4 separate regions of the Homo sapiens genome follow, and regions 2, 3 and 4 are each linked to region 1. The links come from fine-mapping of genetic effects on gene expression. A gene starts in region 1. Each other region holds a variant in brackets. All regions are shown on one strand. Distances are between the middles of the regions.

Region 1 (5,323 bases):
TGACTGAGTCAGTCATTTGGAAAGGTCAGCTTTTTCACTGGATACTCTCAATTGCTACTCCCTAAGTCAGTTAATTAGTATTTTTCTAAAATGCTCCTACCAGTCCAGAGCTGAAAGATGTAGTCTCTAACTGCTGTTTCTACTCTCTGGGCCTGCCAATCCTGCTAACCCCTTTTCACCCAATGGCTATTGCCATGTGACTCACACCTCAGGTTCTGGGATCAATCCCAGTCATTTTGGAGGGCAACTAGAGCTTTATATTAACACTCTGGGACTTCAACATAAGGCAACCATGCTCAGTGTGAAGTTTGGTCCTAGTTCTAGGTATTAGGCTCCTGCTTTGTTTGTAAGTCTCACTCTGTCCCCCCAGATCCAGCCTTTGAATATTTGTTTTGTCCTGCTGGGTCCTCAAACTTGGGCCTCCAGTGAGTATCTCAGTAGCTCAAGGATCTGAGTTCTATTTGTTTTCATCAATTCCCTGTAGAAACGAAAGGGCAGACCTAGAAAACCCCAGCACTGAAGCTGGGGCCTTGCTATAAGCAACACACTTTCTCAAGGCTTGCCGTGATTTCCCAATTTTTGCCCACTCCTGGATTTTCCAAGGCTATGTGTTCCAGCTGTCCATTGGCTTACAACACCCACATTCTCTGTTTAACAGGCCTGATGCCGGCTGCCTTCCTGGCCTGCTGCCGGTTCCATATCCTCCAGATACTGCATTCTGGCTGAACGTTTATCACGCCAGCTGGGTTGGCCTCCGATTCCACGGATGTATCTGGTTCTAGTTTCCATTTCTCCCCATCCACCTCACCCTCATTACAGTTAATCCTTTTATATTAAACCATAGCGGATCTTTGCTGTTGTGGAAACTGATGTGGTATTGGAATTTTATCCTTGTTTACATCTTTCTTTGTGTTGGAAAGGTTGGGATTACTTCCAAAACCTTCCCAGAGAGCTTTCCTGTCTCCTTTAGGGGAAACAAATGAAAACTTGACAATAGCTGGTATCTATGACACCAGCTTCAAGGCCACTATTTTAATTGTAAAATTGCATTATTTAATCATAATTTTGCTTTTAGATATACAAATATATTTTAAAGTATATTTTGTCCAGTGTTTACTCACAGCTCTCAATTTCAAGGTATCTTACTGGAACTCAGTGGCTTTGTGGTTATAAGGACATAAACAAATCAAGGCTAGGGATGGTGTGGTGTTCTACAGTGGTAAGCTACATTAGAATCCTCCGGAGGACTTGTTAAAACAGATTGCTGGGTACCACCCCACAGAGTGTCTATAGAATGATGCCCTAAGAATTTGCACTTTGACGAAAACTGGTCATGTATTTAAGCTGGTCACAGATAACCAGAAGGTGCTGAACTGTTCTTAATCAATTCAAACTTTTACCTGAAATGGATAATAAGGTGGAGAGCCTTGAGAAATGAACTTCCAAAGTTCAGTGCATGCAGTTAGCATGACTGCTGGTTTTAGAGTTCTCAACCACTTATTGCTTATGAGCAATAAGTGGCCATAAGCATTTGGCCAATCACTTACTTGAGTTTACAGGTTTTCTCATCCATAAAATAACAATAGCTGCTATGCTGCCCTCAAAGGGTTGTCCTGAGGTCTGAATGGAATGGGTGTGATAGTGTCTGAGCAACTATAAAGTGGTATGGCACTGGGAGGTATTGTAACGGTTTTTCATTACTCTTCTTAAAATATCACCAGTTTCCTTTGGCTCTTGTTTCCCTCATTAATTATAGCAACTGTAATCTGGGAATACACAGTACTTTTATTGCCATAAAAGCCAAACTTCAATAAACTCAAATTTCAAACTTTTCTATAAAATTTTATTCAGTGAGATCAGACACGCCTTATAAACATTACACAGAGCCAAGAATGATTCCGTTTTTACAGCTATAAAAAGAGATCTACAAGACCCTATTGTAATTTGGGGTGGCGTCACGGTTAATCTTTTTCAACCCTGTTTAGATTGGCCCATTAATAAAAATGGCTGCTAGTTACAGCACATTTAAAAATACAATCACCGCGTACAAATGGTAACCTGTCCACTCCATACTTCCATGTCCTGTGCCGCTTCTATTAACTTGTCTTTGGAAGTAGTAAATTCTCCCAGTCTGGACGTGGCTATTTTTTCTCACACACGGGCCAACACAGTTCTTGCTCAACTTGGGTGCGTTTATGACTTTTCAACAGTGTCATCAGCCGTACCTAACTCTTCCAGGCCTTCAGTATCTCAGGTGTTAGCTTCAGTTGTTCCTAGGTCTTTCACAAATATCATAAATGACAGGCAGGACGCTTTTCTGGAGTCAAGATCTGTTAGTTTCGGAGTCAGAAAGACCCCGTTTAGAGACTCGTAGGCGAACTTGCCAGGGGGCCTACCAGGGGCAGAATGGGGTCCTCCGGACCAGCCAGCCGCGTCTCAGCCACCTCCGCAGCCCCCGGGGCCCTGAACCCCGGCCGCGTTGACGCGCGCTTCTCCCGGACGTCGGCAGGAGGCGCCCGCGGCGGACCAGGCGCGGCGCGCACCGTAGCCGGCCCAGGGGGCGGAGGGAGCGGAGAGGAGGAGCTGGAGGGGGCGCGGCTTCCTCTCGGTCGCTCCCTGGCGCCGGGCCTCTTTCTCTGCCTGGCCCAGGGCTGGCGGCCGGCGGGGGTCGCGGCGGCGGCAGTGGGGGCGCTGGCGGGCCGCGGGTGGCGGGGGCCGGGCCGCGGCTCCGGGTGTTAGGAGACAAGATGGCGGCGGCTCTCAGAAGGCCGGTCTCCTCCTCTCCGCCGTCCTCCGCCCCGCCGCTCGCCGCCTCCTCCTCTCGGGTCTCCTCCTCCTCGTTTGCTGCCTCCTCCTCCTCCTGCAGCAGCACCAGCGACCGCCGAAGCGCCGGCTCGCTCACCCGGAGCTCCGGAGGTGGATAGACGGGGCAGCTGCAGGCTCCGGCGACCGAGGCCGAGCTGGGGCCGGGGCGGGGACGGCGGCGGCGGCGGCGGCGACGGCGGCGGCGCCGGGTGGGGATGGGGTCGCAGACGCTGCAGATCCTCCGACAGGGGGTGTGGGCCGCGCTCAGCGGGGGCTGGTACTACGACCCGCACCAGGCCACCTTCGTGAACGCGCTGCACCTCTACCTGTGGCTCTTTCTGCTGGGCCTGCCCTTCACCCTCTACATGGTGAGTGTGGGGGCGGGGAGCGGGTGGCTCCTTCCCCGCGAGCCGGTGGGGAGATGCTGGGGTCGCGCCCTCTTCCTCTTCCACGGGGTCTCGTCCCCCGGGGGCCGCCACCCTCTCGGTGTGAGGCTCCCCGCCCCCACTGCGTGCTCCCACTCCTCTCTTCGGGGCTTTCCTGGTTTCGGAGGTGACACGAGCAACGAGCCCACGGCAACCCGCGCCGGCCGCCCCCGCCCGCTCACTGGGAAGCGGCAGCGTCCTAGGCCCCTTCTCGGGGTTCCCTCCTGCGGCCACTCGGCTAGGCCGTCCCCGCCGGGGCCCCCCGCCCGTGGGGCTGTGTGGCAGGCGCCGAGCGCTCTGCGGCTTTAGGGGACGCCGCATCCATCCTTGGCACGCTGGGTTCCTCGGGCGCCCGGCATCCGGCACTGCCCGCCCCCGCCGCGGCCCTCGTCCGGGGCTCCCGGGAGAGGCCGCCCGCCGCCTCGCCGCTAATCCGCGTGCGGAGCCCCGGGAGCGCGGGGGACCGTGCGGCTCTGCTCCGAGTGTGTGTGGGGGTCGTCCGGGCTCGTCCTCCAGGGGTCCTGGGTGGTGGCTGAAAACCCGGCTCGGAACCCTCCTGCCTCTAAAAAACCGTTGTTGTGCTTCGCAGCGGTTCTTCTCTGTTCGGCCCCGTGGCCGGTGGCCGTGGTGCTTCCTGGCCTCCCTGGGGGGAGGGAGCGGGGAGATAACGGGGAATCTGGCTGGCATTTCAGCAGATTTGTTTGGCTTGGTTCAAGGCCTTTGGCGGATAGGAGTAGGGAGAGAGAGTACTGCCTGTTGCTGAATTCGGTGCGATCAGCTTCTCTGAATCATCTGTGTTTTTAAAGCAACATTGAAAGTTGTTAAGCGCAGTTTCTAAAGCACAGGTTAGGGTGGGGCGTTAGGGAAACTCGTGTGGACAGAGATGTTACTTAAGGCTTCATATAAAATTTTAAAGTAGTCAGAGGGGAGGAAAGGATCTGAACTTTTTATTTTAGGAGAATTCCTTTGAATGTATTTCTGCTAACTTTGAGGTTCTTTGTGGAGCTAGAGACAGGGTGCTGAGTTAGAAAATCCCGGAGGACCACTATGAGAAGTGCAAAAGGTGAGGACACCCAATTCTTCCCTAAGTGAAGTTCAGTTTCACTAATTGGCAGGAAAAGTGTCTGCTTGAGGGAAGATGTGCACATTCTCAAGCAGATTCACATTTTTCGTTGAAATTGTTTTGAAGGGACTTATTGTTTGAGGTTAAAAAAAAAAGCCATTAAGAAATGCTGATGGCTTGTGGCTTGTTTTATTAGGGGGACTTGTTCAGTCTTGTTGCATTCTGAAAATTTATCGTGAAGTATTATAATTTTCAATTAATTTTGGCCTAGGGAGTTCTATTTGCACTACTATACCTTCCAGGAATATGACATCATTAATGAACGGGTTAATTACTTTGGGTTTAAGAATCCTCAGGCTGTCACAAAATTTTCAAAGCAAATTTCTTCTATGTCCAGAAGAATTGTAGATTTAAAACTGAAAATGATTTTTGAGAGGTAAGGATTAGTTGCTGGGTCCAGTGTAAGATTTCTTTTTTAACACTTGTAGTAAACTGTGTGGTCATGGTTAAGTCTCTTTGTGTAGTTAGCAAATGTTACTGAAAGAATATTAGAGCAAATGGAAACCAGGACATTGAGTTTACTTCCTTCATTTTGGGAGTTCAGTTAAACTGAATTCTCACATATTTGAGTGTCTACCATGTACTAGACACTTTCTGAGATTGCTTCTGACTTCCTTATCTCAATTAATGGCAGTCCCACTCTTCCCAAACCAGAAGGTGCTGAGCTGTTCTTAATCAGTTCAGACCTTTACCTGAAATGGATAATAAGATGGAGAGCCTTGAGAAATGAACTTCCAAAGTTCAGTACATGCGGTTAGCATGACTGCTGGTTTTAGAGTTCTCAGCCACTTATTGCTTATGAGCAATAGGGGCTGTATCTTCAAAACCTAACTAGACGACGACTCCTCCCTCCTCCTCCTCCTCCTCCTCCTCCTCCTCCCCCTCCTCCTCCTCCTCCTCCTCCTCCTCCTCCCCCTCCTCCTCCCCCTCCTCCTCCTCCCCCTCCTCCTCCTCCCCCTCCCCCTCCTCC
Region 2 (5,323 bases), 230 kb after region 1:
GAATCTTTTTACACGTTTTCCATGCTGCCACCATAGCTATTCCTCTCATGCACCCAATTTTGCCAGCACAGGAGTGGCCATTGAAGAAGATGGCTGATGTCAACTAGACTACTACTTGGTTGGACTACTACCAATGATTTGGACTACTTGGTTTTTGAGTGCCTCCTCCACAGCAGATGCTCTCTGGTGAGCGTTAACTTGCACTCAAAAATCTTTACATTCCATGCCCACTCCTAGAGATCCGTCCATGTGCCTCTACCCCTGTCCCCAGTCTTTTCTTTCTCCTAGGCCCCTGACCAACTAGCCAAGCCATTTGCTATTCCCGTGACTCCATGTTTTTTTCTGGCCTCTGCTCTCTTTCCACATAACGTGGATGACCTCATAGCCTGATGTTTGCCTTGCAATGATTTCCCTCATTACTGTCTTAAAGGACCACCAGCACGGGGCTGTATGGCTGCAGTAGTCCGTTAATGGTTTGCAGATACGTATTGAACCAACCCATCTTGAGCCAAACTTGGCTTTTTTCCTCCTCCATCAGTTGGTTGTAAGGGATTCACCCCTCACCCCATCGGCCATCTGCGTGAGCTGAGGAAAAGTTCTTCTGTGACAGTAGTGAATGACACGGGAGGGTCTGCACCACCTGCTCATACAGTCTGCGTAGGCCCTCTGTACCACTTCAATCTCAGGATGGATTCCTACTAGGCCCCCTCAGACATGTGGCTGAGTGTCTGACAAGTTGTGTGATCAAATACTCTTTACCAAACCCCAGGGGCAAACCAGGAGCTGTTTCCAAATAGTATGTAGTTCTCTGTTGCAAATATATAAACCGTAGCATATAGTTCTCTGTTGCCTTACTTCAGAACCCTATGGGTCTACATTGTGATTCTCCAGTTAGGTTTACCATAAACTCTATATAGCATTTTTTCTCAATCACAGATAATTTGAATACCAGATTGTATGGACCAAGTGACAAGACTGCTTATATCACACCCTGGACTGGCTGTGGAGCTATTTTCTCCCCTGGGTCCCACTCAATGCTGGTAGCTTTCCATGTGTCTTGGCAAATGGGCCAGAATAATGTTCCCATGAATGGACTATGCTGACCTCAGAACCCAGGTTGATTGTATAGGACATGTGATTCCTTTTGAGTCCTTTATTTTGAAGACAATGTCCCAGCAGGCTCCTGAGTCTTGATAGCGTTTATCTCCACCAGACTTCCCAATTCTTGCTCATCCAGTCTGATCGACATAATGTCATCAATGTCATGGATGAATGTAATGTTCTGCAGCATGTCCAGAAGGTTCAGCTTTCTTCAGACTATCTTTTGACAGAGGGCAGAGAATTAACATAACCTTGGGGCAAGGTCATGTTAATGCATAGGGTTATTCACCTCACGAATGCAAACTACTTCTGGTCCTCATTTTCTACAGGGGTGGATAAGAATACACTTGCCAGATTGGCTGTATGCCAGGTACCTGATACACTGTTAATTTGCTCTAGGAAATATACCACATTTGTATGCTTTTTGCAGGGCCTGACTGAAACCCACCTTTGCAAAAATTATAACTGAGGAAATTATGACAGTGAAAGAGATCAGACCCAACTGATTCCATCTTGCTTCTAACCTTTAAGCTGTCCTTGTTCATTCCTGGGCATAGACTAAGCTAATCCTGGGAAGGAATTTAGTTTATGATTTGACTCTGAAACAAAATTGATACTAGCCTTTCCCCTAAAAAACCTACCTCTTGCCTAGGGACCAGTCTGCCTTTATCGGACTAACAAACCAGCTACAAGATTAGAAATTACGGTTTAGGGGTCATGCAGCCTCTGGCTGCAAGAGTCTGAGCCTCCCCAAATTGCTCCTGAGGATAACATCACTATTGTAAAACCTAAGATCAGTGCTTGAGGTATTTGGCAGACCCTGTGCTCCCTGGATCAGCTGACATCACCCAGACCAGTAATCTGGCTCAGCCATTTCTGCCATCCCACCCAGAAACAGAAGACAGCAGGAAAAACTTACTTCCACCCCCTATGATTCCATCTCCAACCTGACCAATCAGCACTCCCCACTTCCTGAGACCCTACCTGCCAAATCATCTTAAAAAACTCTGATCCCCAAATGCTCGGAGAGACTGATTTGAGTAATAATAAAACTCCAGTCTCCCACACAGCTCTGTGTGAATTACTCTTTCTCCGTTGCAATTGCCGTCTTGATAAATTGGCTCTGTCTAGGCAGCGGGCAATGTGCACCTGTTGGGCAGTTGGATGACTAGTGATTCAGTTGGAATATGGAGGCCACCAACCCTCTCCTTTAAGTCTCTTCTAGTCCCCACAGGATATATTAATAGTATTGTTGGTGATTTACCATCTTGACTGGAAGTGGGGAGAAATTTCATAGATTTCCACTTGGCCTTCCT[C/T]AATGTGGTTGACTAACTAGTTGGTTCACCTAACTGCCAAATATGTCCATTCTGCTTATATGCTTAATGGGAAATAACCATGGGACAGTTCTATGACCCAGTGAGCCCACTGCGAGACCTGCACCAGGACCTTCTTAGCTGCTCCCCATAGGGCCTCCTCACCCTCCATTCTCCCTGGTGGTGGCTTGGGTGTCCAATATCAATTAGCTCAGGCCTTGTGTCTGTGTCCAACCAGTCCTCAAAGTTTCTGGGTATTGCCCTTGGCCCACAGGTCCTGTGGGGAAGGCTAAATAAAGGTAATCATACCATATACATTGCTGTGGCGTTGCAAGTTTCTGCTGAGGGCCCAGCTCTTCTTTCAGCTACCAAGTTCTAGGTCTGAAAACTGGCCCAGGTCCAGAAACTAGACAACAGATTGTGACTTTTTATGAGAGTGCCTCCCTCAGCCTCCTTGATTGTGCAGATTGAGTGAGACCCTTGGTGGCTGCCCACATATCTATCTTGACCTTCAGAGTGCCATGTTCTATTAACAATTGTCATATTCTGTCTGGGCCAGGCTGCTGTGACTGCCACCCCTTGTTCCTTATTACAGTAATTACATACACCTGGTTTCTGATGCCACGCGCTTCCTGGCCTCTGTTAATTTGAAACCCCATCATCCCGTGGCTATAGGGAAAGCGAGTTCTATAAGAGCATCTGCTATTCTCAGCCCTGGTCTACAAAGGACAGCCACCACTGAGCTTCTTCAATAATGCTGGTGCCCCTCTCATCAACACATTTTTGATCACTTTACTAGTCAAAGTATTCTTTCTAGGCCTCCATCCCATGGAAGGTAATTGGCTGGTGGGTTTTCTCACCTTATATAAAATGCCTGTTTTATCAAGCCCACTTCTCTGGGCCTTCGGTCCCTTTCTCTATCACTTGCCATGGCAATTCTGACAGTGCTACTTCACTTAGTATGGGCTAGTGCTTTTTCCCAGCTTCTAGGAATCAACCTAGCAGCATATTTGCATATAGGAGCTTTGACAGTGACACGGGAGAGTTCTCTGACCCCCCCTCGCAGGACGTGCAACAGGGGTGTGGCTTGTCTGTTTGGCCACAGCCGCTGCTCAAACCCCTTATGGGAGGGGGAGCACACAGACAGGCAGGTGCAGGAGCTGGGGCGAGTGTTTCTGGGCTGTGGCCCCACAGCAGCATCTAGGGGTGGGCGCCTGTGACCCCTGAAGCCCAAGTGGGCATGTGTTACAGTGCGCTCTTTTAGCTTTGCCATCCACCAATGGCTTAAGTGTTAAACAGCTTAGTAGACTCTCTGCCTTTTCACAAGGGCAGAGGGCCAGTGTGACAGCTTTCTGTATCTTGAGCTCTTGTCCAGTGTCCTGAATCAGGTGACACACAGACTTGGAGGATGGTGAATGTGGGGGTTTTATTGGGTGGTGGAGGTGGCTGTCAGTGGGATGGATGGGGAGCTGGAAAGGGGATGAAGTAGGAAGGTGATCTTCTCCTGGAGTTTGGCTGTCCTGAGGCTGATTTCCTCTCCAGCGGTCCCCAGCTGAACTCCTCCCAATGTTCCTTCTCTTCTCTCCTTCTCTGCTGCTCTTCTGTTCATCTGCTCATCTACTCCTGGAGCTGGGGGTTTGGGGTTTATATGGGTACAGGATAAACGGGTGTGGCAGGCTAAAAGGCAACTTTTGAACATGAAAACAGGAATGCCTGTTCCCATTTAGGGCCATGGGTATCCAGGCTTGAAGGTGGGACCTTTGCCAGGGAACTGCCCTCTTCTACCCAGTATTTCCCTGTCTCCTGTCCATATCAGCAGGATATTCATCTTGTATCATAGAAGAATGTCCTCATATTAATAAACTCTCTATTATCCAACTTTATATTCTATTTCTCTAGATTCAGTGCCCTCCAGATCCCACCCCATAAATATCCTCTCTGCTTCTGCCAGTACATGCTGGCTAGGCCCTATAGCGTCTTTGATGTATAGTCTCCTTCTCCCTCAAGGGACCCAGTACATTCCTGGCCTGGTTGTGTTGTGGCTTGACTGTAGCTTTTAGCCACGCAGGGAGGTGGGGATAAGTTATGAAAGGCATGAGGAGTCTTTGAGTTGTCTTCAAGCAGAGGGGTATGGGTCACATCTGCAGGCCAGTGTTTGGAGGACCTGGGGTTTCAAGAACCTCAAGTTGAACTGTGATGCAGTTATGACAGAGGCTTCAGCCAATCTCACAGATAGCTCTAGAGCTGCCATGATTCCCATCTCAAGTCTCCCTCCCAGCTGGGGCCTTGGCATAGTGGACTCATCTAAATGGAGAGTCCAGTCTTCTCTGGAGCTCCATTCACTTCTGAGCCTCAGCTGCTTCTGCCCTCTGGTTGAAGAAGATCAGGATCTCTTTATATGCTACCAAGGAGGCCTGTTGGACTTCAACACTTTGTCCTCGCAAAGAGTAACTGCCCTTGGCCTTTTGCTGTCTTTCTCCAGTGCAACCATAGCCCTCAACCTGTGAGGAGTGAAGGAAGCACTTTGGCCAGAGGGAGAAGCTGAACTGCAATGCAGTCACCACAGAGGCCTCAGCCAATCCCATAGGAAGTTCTGGGTCTCTGATGGTCCTTCAGAGTTGTCTGGATTTGAGGTACAGGGGCTGGGGCCACCCCGCCAACATTGATTAGTTATAGGATGTGGGCTACCCCCAGGAGGAGCTTTAACCTTGGGTGAATCAGTTTCCTTTGGATGGAGGGAAATCCCTGGGGAGGGACTTAACTTTGTGCAGTCAAGGGGAATGAGCATCTCATCATAAAGGAAAATTTGAGTGGCCGAATGGCACATGGCATGCATTCCATTGACACTGGGAATAAAGAGAGGGGGCTAGGGATAGGAAAATGATTTCTGGAAGAAGAATCGACAGGAT
Region 3 (5,323 bases), 980 kb after region 1:
ATGCCCATTTGTCATGACTAAGAGAATTGATGTCTGGATCCACAGACTTTCTTGAAATCCTAATAGAACTCATTTCCCTGGGGCCAGAACTAGGCACTAGGATGCAGTAAGAGTGGGCCCTGGAGCATACAATTTAAGGAGGCCCTTTCGTTCCCTGTGGTATAAGGGCAGGCACCTGAGCACCTCCTTAAATTTTTTGCCTCCTGAAATTTTGTGCCCTGAATGCCTCATTTGCCTCATGCTAGTCCTGACCTCCACCATCCCCATTTTCTGGAAACTGACAGCACTGCAAATGTAGCAGCTTTCTGTCCAATACTATTGCCATCCCTTAGCATATCCCTCAGCTGGGCTGAGAAGGCCTTCACCCACGCTTCCTTTACCCTCTTGAACCCTGTCCATTCTTCCAACCCACCTACAGAAAGAGACAAGGGTATTTAAATTATAAACAAATTTTCATTTAATCAACACTAAACAAAACAAACAAAACCTAAACATTTCTACTCCGTCGACACTAAAGAAAACAAACAACACTGAAGAAAATAAACGGAAACCAAACATTTCTACTCCATCGACATAGCCAAGTTAAAAACATTTTTTCCTTTCAAAATTTGCCAAGCTAACTCATGGTATAAAGACATGTGACATTAATTTCTAGCATTCCTGAGCTGGGCAGTATTACAGCCCTCTCTGGATTTGAAAAATTAAAAGTATTCTTCACTTCAACTCTTAGGAGAGCCAATTCTCAAAGGGCAGCTTGCTTTGTTTGTGGAGCTGGAGTGGTGGAGAGAGGTCAGAGCATGAAGGGAATGTCTCCGTGGTTCTCCTAGGATGTGATGAGGGCTCACTTGGGAGCTCAGGAATCACATCAAAGAGCCCCAGGAGGATCTGAGGAATAAAGATTGAGGCTGTTGGAGAGTCTAAAACATAAACAAGGGCTGCAAAATTAATAATACAGCGTTCAGTGCATTCTTTGGAACACAGGAAAGTTGGAAGGCTGTTCTTGTGGATACTAGCAATTCTTTCCAATGCTGTCTCTACTTTTAGAGAAGACCCTGTCCTTTGGCCTTCTCTTTCACCCATATAGTGTCTCTCTCTGTTTAATACTAGTGGAAAGCTGTTTAATACTAGTGAGATAAAATTCTTTCTTTCCTTCCTTCCTTCCTTCTTTCCTTCTTTCTTCTTTCCCTCCCTCCCACTCTCCTTCTCTTTTTTCTCTTTCTTTTTCTCCCTCCCTTCCCTCTCCTTCCCTTCCCCTCCATTCCCTTCCCTTTCCTTCTCTCCCTTGCTTCCCTTCCTTTTATTTTATTCAGAAATGCGTGTAATCCCAAATCTGAATAAGGGAAATTGATCATATCATCCCTTGCTTGTCATTAGAAAACAATTAGTTCTCAGAACTTAAATTTTTGGACTGAAGTGATTAAGGTTGAGGCCTGTTGATATGATGACAGTGAATTCAGCCTAAATATTGCCTTTTTGGAACACTCCAGGTAAAGTAGCTTCATCCTTATCACACTTATCACTGTCTGAAACTCTTACTGTTTAAGAGTTGATTGTCTGTCTCTCCCATTAAAAGGTAAGCTCATTGAGAGTAGCATCTTTGTTTTATTCCTGGCAGGATCTTCAATTAACGTCACTGTGCACATTGCACAGTAGGCAATCAATTAATATTGACTGACTGAATGAATGAATATATGAGTGAGTTGTGTTCTAATCATGGATAATCCAAGTAAGCAGTAATACAGTGTTTGAGTTTTTTCGTTTAGTAGTCTTCTGTCTAAGGTGTATTTGGATACATACACCAGGCAGAAGTTAGGCACTGAGGTTAAGGCAGTGGACAAGACCAACATAGCTCCCACCTTTGTAGCAGTTAGAGCCTAGTAGAAAATGAAAGCAATCAGCATGTAATTTTGGTGAACTGCATGTTTGCAAGGTATATCTTTAATTTGGTTGGTTTGTTTTGGAGGCAAATAATTTAGGTATAACTTGAAGGCTGCTAGGTATATCTTGACAAAGTTTTGAAAGAAATCCAGGGCTTATGGAAGGGCATATCAGTTAGAGATTGCTCTTCCTGCATATATTAATACCACCTTTTGCCAGAACATAGTCTCGGGGACACCTCAATGCAAGAGATGCTGAGAACTGTTGGCTCACGCCTGTAATCCCAGTACTTTGGGAGGCCGAGG[C/T]GGGTGGATCACGAGGTCAGGAGTTCAAGATCAGCCTGGCCAACATGGTGAAACCCCATCTCTACTAAAAATACAAAAATTAGTCAGGCATGTTGGTGGGCACCTGTAATCCTAGCTACTTGGGAGGCTGAGGTGTTGCGGGAAGTCAGGGACCCCAAACGGAGGGACCAGCTGGAGCTGCAGCAGAGGAACGTAAATTGTGAAGATTTCATGGACGTTTATCAGTTCCCAAGTAATACTTTTATAATTTCTTATGCCTGTCTTTACTTTAATTTCTTAATCCTGTTATCTTTGTAAGCTGAGGATGTACGTCACCTCAGGACCACTGTGATAATTGTGTTAACTGTACAAATTGATTGTAAAATATGTGTATTTGAACAATATGAAGTCAGCGCACCTTGTAAAAGAACAGAATAACAGCGATTTTTAGGGAACAAGGGAAGACAACCATAAGGTCACACTGCCTGCAGGGTCAGGCAAAAAGAGCCATATTTTTCTTCTTGCAGAGAGCCTATAAGTGGACGTGCAAGTAGGAGAGATATCCCTAAATTCTTTTCCTAGCAAGGAATATTAATATTAATACCCTGGGAAAGGAATGCATTCCTGGGGGGAGGTCTATAAATGGCTGCTCTGGGAATGTCTGTTTTATGCAGTTGAGATAAGGACTGAGATACGCCCTGGTCTCCTGCAGTACCTTCAGGCTTACTAGGGTGGGGAAAAACTCCGCCCTGGTAAATTTGTGGTCAGACCAGTTCTCTGCTCTCAAACCCTGTTTTCTGTTGTTTAAGATGTTTGTCAAGACAATGTGTGCACTGCTGAACATAGACCCTTATCAGTGGTTCTGTTTTTGCCCTTTGCCTTGTGATCTTTGTTGGACCCTTATCAGTAGTTCTGTTTTTGCCCTTTGTCCTGTTCCCTCAGAAGCATGTGATCTTTGTTAGACCCTTACTAGTAGTTCTGCTTTTTGCCCTTTGAAACATGTGATCTTTGTACCTACTCACTGTTCTTACACCCCTTCCCCTTTTGAAACCCTTAATAAAAACTTGCTGGTCTGAGACTCAAGCGGGCATCACGGTCCTACCGATATGTGACGTCACCCCCGGCGGCCCAGCTGTAAAATTCCTCTCTTTATACTGTCTCTCTTTATTTCTCAGCTGGCCAACACTTATGGAAAATAGAAAGAACCTACGTTGAAATATTGGGGGTGGGTTCCCCCAATACTGAGGCAGGAGAATCACTTGAAACTGGAAGGTGAAGGTTGCAGTGAGCTGAGATCGCGCCACTGCACTCCAGCCTGGGCAAAAGAGTGAAACTCCATCTCAAAAATAAAACAAAACAAACAAACAAAATACAAAAATTAGCCAGGTGTGGTGGTGGGCACCTGTAATCCCAGCTACAAGGCAGGAGAATTGCTTGAACCCAGGAGGTGGAGGTTGCAGTGAGCCGAGACCCTGTCATTGCATGCCAGCCTGGGCAACACAGCAAAAGCTCTGTCTCAAAAAAAAAAAAAAAGAAGAAGAAGAAGAAAAAGAGAAGGGGGAATTTATCTGCCTTGCTCCCTCCTGCTTCCTATTGATTGAGGCTCATCCCACAGGAAACAAACCTCTTTCCCCTTTCAGGTTGTGTCAGCTGGCCTGCTTGGGTTGGTCACATCTCATGCTCTGAGACTGGGTGTTTTATCTAAGTCCATCAGTGGAAGAAGGGTGGCTTGGCATAGGTAGGATTTCATTCAAGAGAAAAAAAAAAATAGGTGGTCAAGGGAATTTGAGAAAGTACACAGCCTTCTGTCCTCATTACAGGCACATACAGACTATGATGGGAACAAGTAGGTTCAAGAGGACCTACATTGGTCTAAAGAGTCAGCTGAGCTGACTCAATATATCTTCTCCATTTGGGTTGCTGAGGAGCTAAAAAATATATCCTTAGTGTTATTCTTAAGCATTATCACATCATTGAAAACTACAATAAAACACTGAAATGTATTGGATCCCTGAAAAGAGCATGAAGTCAGGAGTTTTTGATGTAGGGTGTCTCTTAACTATAGCATTATTGTCATCTAACACAAGCTGAGGATTGGGCATGGTTCACTGGAGATACCAAAGATGCATGATATTGTCATGGCCTTCCATTGAGAAAGAAAAATCTAAACAAATGAATAATGACACAGTGTGAGTAAGGGCCAAATGATTGGTGGAGAATTCAGAGGCGGGCAGGATCTCTGTGGTCCAGGGGAGAGGAGAACATGTCATGGAGGTAGGCAGATTTGATCTGGGCCTTGAAATAAAGGTGGACTTTGGTGTGTTTGACGTAGGAGGAAGGGCGTTCTGGGTTGGGGGCAAGGCACAGACAGAAATATGATTGCGGGGAAGTACATGGTGACCAACAGCAACCGAGGAAGAAGCAGTGAATATCTGCCTTTGTCTGGAGAAGAAAAGAGTGAGAAATGTAGCTATAAGGATCTTAAATTGTGAATATTCTTAAATACTGAGAAATGGAGTGTGGATTTTTTTCCCTAAATGCAATGGAGAGTCAGCGAAGGGGGATTTTAGGACTCACAGAATGGGAAACTGGAGGGTGGAGAAGGGGAGTTGGAAAAAGTCCTGTTGTGGAAACTCTCCCTTAATAAGGACACTTCACTGAGTGGGTCACACCAACTGCTTCGTCAGAGAGGGGATAATTGAGTTGGGGGAGAGCTTGGGGCACGCACTTTGCAGGGCGTAAGGTACAGAAAGGAAAAGCAAGAGGCTGGTGATAACTTTTCTATGTTGTTGTTTTGCCAAGTGATATGATCTGTGTCCCCACAAAATCTTAGGTTGTATTATAATCCTCAGTGTTGGAGGTGGGGCCTGGTGGGAGGTGACTGGATCTTGGGGGCAGGCGTCTCACGAATGGTTTAACGCCATCCCCTTGGCACTATTCTCATGATGCTGAGTGAGTTCTCCTAAGATCTAGTTGTTTAAAAGTGTGTAGCACCTCCTCTCTCTCTCTCTTTCTTGCTCCTTCTCCTGCCATATATTAGTTGGATGCCATTAAAAGTAATGGCAAAAACTGTGATTACTTGTGCACTAACCTAAGACGGTCTGCTCCTACTTTGCCTTCTGCCATGATTGGAAGCTCTCTGAGGCCCCCCCAGAAGTGGA
Region 4 (5,323 bases), 22 kb after region 1:
TGTAAATAGCAGCAAGAGAAGCACTTGCTGCCAATTGGCTGCATGTTTCAAGGAATGTAAACCTCTTTTGGGAGATTTTAACCTAACTTGAAACAGCAGTGCTGTAGGCCTCTAGTGGGTAGAAACCAAGGGGATTTTAAACCTCCTATAATGCACATGACAGCGCCCCACACCAAAGGATTGTCTGGCTTTAAGTGTCAACGGTGCCCACAGCGAGGAACATTGCCCCAGAGTTTATGTTCTCAGTGGGTGTGGTGTTACCCTCAAGGGGGCAGAAATTAACTCTTGAGGGATGCATGTGTGAAAAAAAAATCTTATTCTTTTTACATATAAAGTACAGATGTACATGCAGCACAAACAAGTGTGCAGTGTATCTGGTATTAAAATTTCACAGGGAGCGTGATGAGGAAAAGAATGTCTGAAAAGGCTACTTAGGAGGACAATAATGAAGAAAATGGGTGAGAAACACTGCATTGGAGGGAGACAGTATAGTTTAGTGCTTAAAAATGCAGGCTGTGGAGTCAGACTGGGTATCGCTTCACTTTCTGCCGCTTACCAGCTGTGGGCATATGACTTCATGGCCTCAGTTTTCTCCTTTAAAATTAAGATAATAACAGTACTTTCTTCAAAGGATTGTGGCAATATAATCCAGTGTATGTAGTGCTTGGTAAAACACTAAATTTGTCATTCTCCTAAGAAGCTCAAAGAGAGAAAGGATCATGTTTATTTCCGTATTAACATTCCTTAGTAGAATATCTGAGACTTAATAGGTGTTCAGTAAATTGTTGCATGAATGGATCAAGCTCCTGTTCTGTAAGTGTGTCTTAGTTGCCTTTATGGTGGTAGTAGGATATGCTCTTCTACGTTTTTAAATTTTTTTCTGTTAGGCATCTTTCACATTTACTTCACCTTAAATATAGTATGTTAAATGTGCGTAATTGTAGTACTTCTGTTTAAAGGTAGAAATGGATTATACAGCATGCAATAGTATCATTCTGTTTCAAGCAAATTGAGCTCAGGGCAAGTGTGATGGAAATGATATTTGGGTTCTGGTAATGCTCTTATGAGAGCTAATATACTTTTTACAGTTTATATATCTTATTGATTTTCATTCTCTCTCTTTTATTTATTTATTTATTTATTTATTTTTTTCTGGGAGGCAGTGTCTCACTCTCTTGCCCAGGCTGGAGTGCAGTGGTGCGATCTTGGCTCACTGCAACCTCTGCCTCCCAGGTTCAAGCGATTCTCCTGCCTCAGGCTCCCTAGTAATTGAGATTACAGGCGTGCACCACCAAGTCTCGCTAATTTTTATATTTTTAGTAGAGACAGTTTCACCATGTTGGCCAGACTGGTCTCAAACTCATGACCTCAAGTGATCCTCCCACCTTGGCCTCCCAAAGTGCTGGCATTACAGGTGTGAGCCACTGCGCCAGGCCTGATTTTCATTCTTGTGTTAGAATTCAGCTTGCGGTTTCTTCTACTAAATGTTAGTGAAACAGAAAAGAATATAAGCAAAATAATTTTTGATCTAATTTTTGTATATATTAATATTTCATTTTAAAATATTTATTTTTACTTAATTCTCATAGTTTGACTCTTCCTTTGACCTAATACTTTCATTATTGAATTATTTTGATTCTTAAAAGCTTTAAATTTGAGTTACTGTTATTATTTTGTGCTTGCTTATTATACTACGTCTATAAGAATATAGTTATACTTTTATATAGGAGCAAGGAGAATCTCATTGTTTTTAATGTATTTGCTCATAAGGTAATCCCATTAAATGTATCCTGAACTGGCATTTTGTGAGGTATGTTAAAACAATAACCTAGCTGCTATTCTTCAGAATTGCAGTGTCATGTTGACAGAATTTGTTAATGAATGCTTACTTTTACTTAATTGTGAATCCTGAAAAAATGTTGCAATAGAATATATCAGGAACAAATGGGAGAAACAGGATAGGTAAAGCTATTTAAGTTGGACTTGCCATGAGACAGCTTTGGTCCTCATATTTACCATTTAGAAATTCAGTGTTTATCAATTTACTGTGGGATTTACTTAGACTGATAAATAAAAGAGTGATTTATACAGTAAAATATTGTTACTAATTTACAAAAGGAAATATTAATGAAGATAGTTCTTAGTGTAGGGCACCTTTTCCTTTTTCCAGAATGGTTAGGTTTACTAAGAAAATCACATATAAATCAAAACATTGTTAGTGCCTCTCAAGTTATATTCCTATATAGCCATTCTTTCAGTTTTTACTTTGGGAATTTTGGGGTAAAGAATGGCATGCAGTCTCCAGATGATACCATCCGGATAATACTGGGAGACAAATCTGTACCAGACTATTTCTTTAATATGCATACATACCTCTACCTTTCTGCTTTATTTTAATAACCAGTTATAATTCTCAGACATAGCAGTTTTTAAAACCGTTACACTTTTGGCTTGCTGCTACTTGATGGTTTGGGAATAGGTACCTTAATCTCATCAGAAAACCATTTCAACACATAGGATAGGATGAGTTAGTTTTGTAAAAGGTTTTTGTGAATCACCATTTCTATCTATAAAGTTTAGATTGTTGGGTATGTTCTATTC[C/T]GGGGCCTCTTTGTTACCTTCATTTTTGAAAAATTTCAAAGTGTGCTATCTTTAACAAATGCTTCTAGATAGGAATTGTTTGGATACCCTTTTGGGATTACATGAAAATTATTATTTCTTTTGTTCTCTACAGTGATCTAAAGATGCTTTTGGAAACTCGGGGAAAGCTCTGCTGTACATTCAGTGTTTTTTTTTTTCCCCTCTTACCGTCTTGCTCTTGTTTTGAAGCATTCTATCTCTAGTCTACCATATGACTATATATATTTGATTATTAGGCTAGGTGCCCCCTGACCCAAAAGTATCCCTCAGCCAAGAAGGAATTATATTATCTGACTTATTACAAAGTCTTTTGTATTACTTTCCACTTGCCCAGTTACTGTTTTTCATCCAGTTGTTTTTCTTGTGTGTGTTTGTAGCAACATGACTTGATTTTTAAACAGTTTTTTAAAATTTAGCATAGCTAATCATAACTGTTACTAGGGTTATAACTTAATAATTTGCAAGTGTTGGATGTCATTAACACTTGTTGGATTAAGTTAAAAAGTAGCTTATGGAGATAAGAATATGTACTTATGTGATGAGTGAAAAAAAGAAAAGTTGTCCTAATTAAGTACAAATGGACATTTGGTTACACAGAATTCCTAGGAACAGCATCATACAGAAAGTGTTAGAACTCAAACTTATACTGAAATGATGATGTAGATGTGCTATGTAAACCTGTGTTAGGTAACTCATAATGACTTCTGTGATGAAGAAACTTCTGTTGCTAAAAATATGTGAATAAATTGGACAAAATCATTTCATGAAATAGAGTAGAAAGGATATACGTAACATTTTAATTATGAGGACATTGACTTTCACCAGAATTTATAGATTCAAATTGTATAAATGATTTTCTTTCTTTAAATAAAAGTATAGGAAAAATTCTATAATGTACATAAGATTATTTTAGTCCATCAGTATACATCCTCACATTTATTTGTTGGGTTTTTTTCTTCATCCCTTATTTTTCATGTCTGTGCCCTTTCTTCTCATGCATGTGTGTGTGCCTGTGCATATGTTGTGTGTGTGTATGTGTGTATGTGTTTGTGTGTTTTTAAGGGACAGGGTCTCCCTATGTTGCCTAGGCTGGAGTGCAGTGGCTGCTCACAGGTACAGTCATAGGACACTGCAGCCTTGAACTTTTGGGCTCAAGCAGTCCTACCACCTCAGCCTTCCAAAGAGCTGGGGCTACAGGCGAATGTCACTGTACCTGGCTTCATATGGATCAAGCTGCTCATCTCTAACTCCTGGCTTAGTGACTTCTGCCCTGAGTAATAGACTCAATCTCTGTTGCCGATGAGTTGCATGTGCTATGTTATTTTAGTCTCTTTTCAGCTAGGTGATGTGGCATAAATTTTGACTGTTACCTCCCTAAGAACAGCATTCTATTGTAGCTAAAAATATAAATATTAATTCAAATGTAGGTTATGGAGTGACAAACAGATTTTTAAAAGATAGATACAGATTTTTAAAAAAGATAATATCTATTATTTTTAATTCTATTTATATTAAAATATTTATGTAGCAGACATTTGCAGAAATACAGGTAGGCTCAAGTTCCAATAGCTCACTTGTAAACCAGTTGCCTTTGGGGAAAATGCACTGTGAGTTTGTACACAGGTTCCCAGCTGGCCCTCTGAAATTAGTTTGGCCCTGTGTAGTTAGCTCAGTAGAATATTATGTTTTTTTTTTTCCTTTGGGAAAGTATGCCTGAATCTCAACATTGAGAGTACTTTTCTCCTTTTCCTCTGCAGCTCCATCCTCTGAAAGGAGACTTCTAACTGGAATGCTTTACCTCAATCCCCAAAGGAGACTGTGGCAAGAGGGCTAAATCCCTGGAGCCATGGCCATTGATATCAGGGCCTTTTCTGAGTCCTTTGGGGGGCAGCTTATATATGGAAAACTGTAAGCCTTATTAAAAACATTCATATTCTTTCTGATCCCTCTTAATTAACATTTTCTAAATTTATAGGTAATATTTGAGTACTAAACCCTTCTTTCTCCCTTCTCACCAGCATTCTCTCCATCCACCAAGAATGAAAGGTGGGAGAGCTATGGAACTGAATTGCAAACACTGCAGGAATTAACTTGCCCATTTTCTTTGGGAAAAAGCCAAAGGGGGTTTTTCTATCATTGTGAGTAAGTAGAGGTGTTCCCAACTCCCCACCCCTTCAGGCATACCAGTAAAAAAGCTAAAACTTGAGGCCAATTGGCCATCTTAAGAGCTTTACAAAAAAATGGTTAATTCTTTTTCCCATTAGTAATTTGCCCACAATGTAAACAGCCATAGGATGGACTGATTTTTAGGCAGACAGTAGAAAGAAGGCAGCACTGCTATTGTTACAAATGTTTAGTTTTCATCTCCTGAAAGAGTGTTAAGAAAAGTTAGTCCAGATATACTGATGGATGGAACTTACAATTTACGATAGGATTAGTGTGCCCGTTTGTGTGTTTTCCCCATGTCTAGGGCATAAGGCATACTGCTTTCAAATTCTGCTAATTTTTGTTTTCATCTGCCAGATTTTTTTGGTATTATTTAATTTTTAGTTCTTTTTCTACAAGATACTATTAGCAGAACAGACAGAACTTTAAAGCCAAAAAAATTAAGTTCAGTTTTTCGCAATAAATATGCTAGTGGTTGTTTCTGCCATAGCTCACTAGAAGCACCGTTTTCTTAACT

Direction of the effects. Alleles are on the strand shown, and positions count from the first base shown. SD is a standard deviation of normalised expression in the study named. Not every link is listed here.
For the expression in whole blood of the gene that starts at base 2,629 in region 1, allele T in region 2 goes with a higher level than allele C (small effect, 0.13 SD a copy in GTEx).
For the expression in adrenal gland of the gene that starts at base 2,629 in region 1, allele T in region 4 goes with a higher level than allele C (small effect, 0.25 SD a copy in GTEx).

What was found. PIP is the estimated chance that this variant, and not a neighbour inherited with it, causes the effect. A credible set is the group of variants that fine-mapping cannot tell apart.
Region 2: its variant is the best candidate, but not a certain one, in a credible set for the expression of PCNX1 in whole blood (GTEx, PIP 0.56).
Region 3: its variant is the best candidate, but not a certain one, in a credible set for the expression of PCNX1 in sigmoid colon (GTEx, PIP 0.78).
Region 4: its variant is the best candidate, but not a certain one, in a credible set for the expression of PCNX1 in adrenal gland (GTEx, PIP 0.81).

What each region holds. Positions count from the first base shown.
Region 1 is chr14:70,904,831-70,910,153 of GRCh38, forward strand. It overlaps PCNX1 (pecanex 1), which reads left to right and starts at 2,629. Exons shown (of 36, transcript NM_014982.3): 1 at 2,629-3,173. The coding sequence starts at 3,021. RefSeq lists silencers at 2,532-2,721, 2,942-3,281, 3,442-3,781.
Region 2 is chr14:71,133,092-71,138,414 of GRCh38, forward strand. No RefSeq gene overlaps it. Among named protein-coding and RNA genes, the nearest start is that of SIPA1L1, 180 kb to the right of the region's middle. The variant C/T (reference allele first, on the strand shown) is at 2,418.
Region 3 is chr14:71,884,739-71,890,061 of GRCh38, forward strand. It overlaps a transcript of RGS6 not described here. Among named protein-coding and RNA genes, the nearest start is that of RGS6, 45 kb to the right of the region's middle. The variant C/T (reference allele first, on the strand shown) is at 2,184.
Region 4 is chr14:70,926,452-70,931,774 of GRCh38, forward strand. All of the region lies in intron 1 of PCNX1 (pecanex 1), which reads left to right. Among named protein-coding and RNA genes, the nearest start is that of PCNX1, 22 kb to the left of the region's middle. The variant C/T (reference allele first, on the strand shown) is at 2,602.